Regions from separate parts of the Homo sapiens genome. Here region 2 is linked to region 1. The links come from fine-mapping of genetic effects on gene expression. Tissue or cell type: prefrontal cortex. Region 1 holds a variant in brackets; the other region holds the start of a gene. All regions are shown on one strand. Distances are from middle to middle.

The links. PIP is the estimated chance that this variant, and not a neighbour inherited with it, causes the effect.
Region 2: it holds the start of AGBL3, and the variant in region 1 is fine-mapped to the expression of AGBL3 in prefrontal cortex (BrainSeq, PIP 0.95).

Annotation. Positions count from the first base shown.
Region 1 is chr7:135,204,990-135,207,675 of GRCh38, forward strand. WDR91 (WD repeat domain 91) reads right to left here. Exons shown (of 15, transcript NM_014149.4): 4 at 2,131-2,213; 5 at 939-1,069. It overlaps MIR6509 (microRNA 6509), which reads right to left and starts at 2,089; the gene lies at 2,005-2,089. RefSeq lists a silencer at 1,921-2,080. The variant AAC/A (reference allele first, on the strand shown) is at 1,435.
Region 2 is chr7:134,985,472-134,988,157 of GRCh38, forward strand. AGBL3 (AGBL carboxypeptidase 3) reads left to right here and starts at 1,037. Exons shown (of 17, transcript NM_178563.4): 1 at 1,037-1,230; 2 at 2,404-2,525. The coding sequence starts at 2,463. RefSeq lists enhancers at 939-1,238, 1,249-1,388, 1,469-1,728.

The sequences.
Region 1 (2,686 bases):
AGCTATTTCATCTGGTGCAATACTTGGCTATGTGGAGGTCTGGAATCCGGCTGCCTGGGTTTGCATCGTGACTCACCAATCACTGTCTTCCTCACCTGTGTGTACCTCTGTTTCTTCAACCACTACTATTATTATCACCAGCTGGGGCTTCTGCTTTAACTGGCTGTTTCTGAAGGTCAAATACCTCTCTCTAATCTGCCTTCCTCTTTAAACCGTCAGAGAGGTGCATGCTTCTACTGAGGAATGCATCCAACCTGTGGTTACCAATCTTTCCATACATGAGATGCTCCTTCCAATGCACAAAACCTTCCCAAGACTTTACCACAGTGGTTGCGTTTTTATTTATCCTGACTACACATATCTGGATGTAGAGCTGGCAGAGCTGTGCAGTTCCCCACCTCTAGGCAGAGCCACAGGCTCGGAGGCTCAGAACTCCTAGAGGACTTCTGAGGCCATGGGGACCTTACTCATAAAGCTCTGAAGCAAGGCTGGACACGGTGGCTCACGCCTGTAATCCCAGCACTTTGGGAGGCCAAGGCAGGTGGATCACTTGATGTCAGGAGTTGGGACTAGCCTGGCCAATACGATGAAATCCCATCTCTACTAAAAATACAAAAAAAATTAGCCAGGCATGGTGGCATGCACTTGTAATCCCAGCTACTTGGGAGGCTGAGGCAGGAGAGTCTCTTGAACCCAGGAGGCAGAAGTTGCTTTGAGCCAAGATTGTGCCACGGCACTCTAGCCTGGGCGACAGAGCGAGACTCCATCTCTAAAAATAAAAATAAAGCTCTCAAGCAAGAGCAGTGTGTGCCAGGAGGCTCTTCCGCAATTCTCCTTCAGCAGGCACAGAGGACTGCAGGCAAGGCAAGATCAGAGGGAACTGTGGGGCTGAGAGCACAGAGGGCAAAGAAAAGGAAAGGGCCGTCACACACACTCACAGTTCCGAGTCCCCCAGGCGGTCCATGTTGGAGACATAAGGAGGCAATTTGTGTTGGACCAAGGCCTCTTCCTCTTCTGGCTGTTGCTCCTCTTTCTTCAGTCGGTGGATTTCAGCTTGCAATGCAAAAAGCTATACAGGGGTGGGACTGAGTTAGCCAATGATCTCACCTAACCTTCCCTCTGCGGAGGAAGATTTCTAGACACATCGCATCCAAGCCCACTGGTCTGAGTGCCACTCGCCTCAGCGTCAAGGGGCCCATCTCACTCTGCTCACTGCAGACTGGGAAAAGTGACTGCTGTCACTGGACAACAATGAGGTGAGAAAACCAAAAACCATTAGAAATCCAAAACCCATTTTCTTTTTAATCATTTGACTTGCTTCCTCCTAGATTCACTGAGAAAAATAGCTCCACCCAACCTGTTTTGCTTTTTAGAATCTACAAAATCAGGCTTTAGAACTCTCAAAGCCTGACTCTGGAATGGAAAAAAAAAAAA[AAC/A]CTGTTAATGAACTACAGCGTTTTTAACCTTTTGCCTGAAGAAAATTACATATACACACACCCCAAATCCCAAGAATCTTAAACCCCATAACCTAAACAGCCTATAATCTTCCTTTTCCTAACAATATCACCTAAGGAGATCTTAATTTCAGGAAAGAGAAATGTTCCTCAGGCAACATGTACAGGCAAATGTGGGTCCCCTGGCTCTATTGTTTTATCAAACTAGAGAAGCATATAGCTGAGTAGGAACAACTAAATTATATATGGGTTATAAACTATATATATGTGTGTGTGTGTATATATAGTTTATATATATACATATAGTTTACATATATATGTGTATATATATATACACACATATATAGCTATACGTGGAAAGACAAAACAGACACATGAAAACAGGTTAGTTATAAGGTGGCATGGATGCATATAGTCTTTTTCTCCTTAAAAGTTAATTACTGTTACTATATTGTTCATGCTACATATCTGACTTAAAATATGAATCTCGCCTCTGGTTTTCAGAGACTGTTACTCTCCAAATCCCCAATACTGACTTTCTGGTGACTCATTTCCATCTGAGAAATTAGGTAGTGGCAGTGGAAACCTGATTAATATAGTGTTCCACTGCCACTACCTAATTTCACACACAAAAAGCAGAAGTACTTCCTCAGGAGCAAGCCTGTTCAGAACAAACCTTCTGACGCAGAACTTCATTTTCTTCTTGAACCTGGTTAGTCCTCTGACACTCCGCATCAAAGTTCAGGATCACAGGGACTGGTGCACGAAGTTAAAGAATAAGCCAGCCCCTGAAATGTTTAAACGTCCTTCCCAAACCCTTGACACACCAGTAAAACACATGAGACACAGGGACACAGAGAACAGAGTATAGGAGCGGTGCTGTGGGCTCTTGCGGGCTTAATGAAATAGTCGCTCCCTACAGTCTTGTCTCTAAGACTTTCTCTAGGTCTGGCCTCATTTCATTCGGACAGATTCACAGACGCATGACCATCTGCCTGGCCAGCCCACAGAGGGGACATAAATCCAAACCTAAGCATTTTCTCTCAAATACCAGAAGCAAAGAGCTAGCATCCAGTGGACTTCACAGCCAGTCTGAGCTTTAGTGAGGTCACTACATTCAGCTAAAAGCAGCCCTGGAGGCCAGTGGCTCTGCAGTAATACAGCCAATGAGGCAGAAAAGACCAGTCAGTTGGCTTCGCCTCCCCAGGTTGAGCCTCTCCCTGGCAAAGGTT
Region 2 (2,686 bases), 220 kb before region 1:
CTTTTCAAGAGGTTGATCTAAGATATACTCTATTAATATTCTCTGGCCAAGGTCTAATCTGGAAGGTTCATACTTTTAAACTGCTGACCTCAAAAACACCTATTTTCAGATACTTACAAAATACAAAGAGATTATGTTAACCCATTTCCATGCTTAAGCCATAGTGCTTTGCCCTTTATTCTACTTTCAAACTTGCTACCATTTATTATCTCCATTTCTACAATATCACGAATCTCATGACATATAACGCTTTGTGAAAAGTGTTTATTTACATTCTTATATCATCAAAATCTAGACTTTTTTTCAGCTGTACTTGGAAAACTTTTCCAAATAGATTACCTTACCCTGTAGAGCTAAAGATGAGGGAAAAAATCAATATGGGATGTTCATGAATAACGTCTGTTAACTAAATGAGACTACATATAGTGATTTGCAGTCATCAGGAAAACAGTGTTAAATATGCTAGCTGACGATTGCTATAAAGAATCTCTGAGCTGATAATTTTGAGAATTCACCCTAGTTCATCTATGACTCTCCATTTAGTATTTAAGGAGAAAAGCCTCATTTTCCAGAATCGAATAAGCGAATTAATCGCACAATTGTGTAGAATGGAACTCAGTCTGTAAAAAATCAAGACCAACGTACTTTTTAATATTCTAACATCTCCAAGTAGTAGTTACAAGTATTGTACCCATGAAGTCCAGGTAATTAATTTGTTCAATGTCACACTGTTAAAAGTCAGGTGGGCTCCAAAGCACAGTCCTAACCAGCATGCTCTACTGCCTCCTCTGAGGCAACAGCCGAAGTGCAGACCACTGGGAATAAATAGCTGCCCGGTCTTCCCCACTCCTAAATTCTCCCGACAGACCCCAAAGCCTCTCTGAGAGCCTCTCTGACCGCCCTGCGGCCCACCCCGAGTTCCCGGCATCCTCTGGGATCCCTCTTCCTGGAGCCAAAACCTACGCAGGCTCCTTTCCTCCGAGCTGGTTGCTAGGTGATCTCCGAAGGCTGTCCGAAGTCTCGCGAGGGCGGACCCGTTGCCTGATGACGAGAGTTGGGAGTGTGGCTGGGGCTGCGGATCTCCAGCAGTGGCGTTACTTCTAGCGGCTGGATACCGGGTTCTCCGCGAGATCGCGAGATCCCGAGATATTCTCCCCGCACGGAAGCGACGACTGGCCTGGCCAGAGGACTCGCGTGGGAGCGAGGTGCCGGCCCCGACAGGACGGTGAGGTATGCAGAAGTAAGGCGGGGCGCCCCCTGCGGGAAGCGAGCGCGCCCCGGAAAATGAGCGCCTCCCCACACCAAGGTGTCCAGGAGTGAGTGCGGGAAGGAACTCGGCCGCCCGGAGTTGTGGCCTCATCGTGCTTCCCGCCAAAAACGCCTTGGTACTGTCGGGACGCGGCTAAGCGTGGACGCGCCCGCATCTGCCCCTCCTCCGCAGTGGTGGAAGACACCCGCGGAGCGCCGGTGGATAAGGGCCGTTTCCTGAGACCAGAGCTGTATCCGCAGCAGGTCAGCACTTCGTGCGCCCTGTGTGCACCTGTAAGGAATGGAATTTAGGCCAGTCGGATTTTCCAAATGTGGAGTTGTGATGCCCAGGCAGAAACTTCAGTTTCTTAGGACTGAAGGTGTCATCTATGAGACAGTCGGTTCCGTGGCATTGGCAGTGATTTGCCATAGAGCTTGGACTTAACTTATATGTAGTCCACGCTCCAAAACACGCTTCCTGTAGAGAGGGGCGTAAACTAATAGATTTGAAATTGTCGAGTCCTTTGGTCTCTCAAGAACGATGGGAACTTGACAAGAAATTTCGATTATTCCCTGGTCTTGATATTACCCACATGGGAAGATACTTGCATAGAATGGTAATGGTCATTACCAATACAACCTTCTGGTAGCTATTTAGATTTCTAAGAATAAGAATAATATAAATGAATATTAGAACAGACAGTATCTACAGAATAATAATCAAAATGTAAAGTCTTGTCACTTGAACTTTTGGTCAAGTGAAAATCAAGGAGAAAACTTAAAATTATATTGCTACATTTCAGTAAGTGACTATAATTTTTAAATTCATTATCTTTTAATGCCTCAGGATCATTCTGAACTTGCTGTGTAGTATTTAATTGTAAATATAAAATGTGAATGATTTGGCTGTATACTCTGGAAATTCCTTTTAATTAAATGATTTGCTTGATTTGTCTTATTGTGGTTGTTGTCTCGTATAGTCATGGAAAATTCCTTTAACTCTTTGAAATTGAAGGTTTTATTAGTTGTATTCTAATTAGTTTTTAGAGAAGACTGTTGTGACTGTTAAATACAATTGAATATATTTTTGAGTACTCATTTAATGTAGTAAACACCTACAGCTTGAAAAGAAAAGCTGTCATATAATTTCCTTAGAAATTGTTTTACAGCCTACCCGTATATTACAAGAAATCTCAAGTCAAACACTGGAAAAGATGTCAGAAGATTCAGAAAAGGAAGACTATTCAGACAGAACAATCAGTGATGAAGATGAATCGGTATGTTTTTCTCAACTTTATTTTACTTGGAGATAAAATTTGTATTATATAAATCCCCAATTAAAATATTATAAAATCAATTGGATATAAAAATCAATTGGATGTTTAAATTATTGTCATTGAAGTTGGGAAATAATTTGGCTGAAAAAGCTAAGCTATCA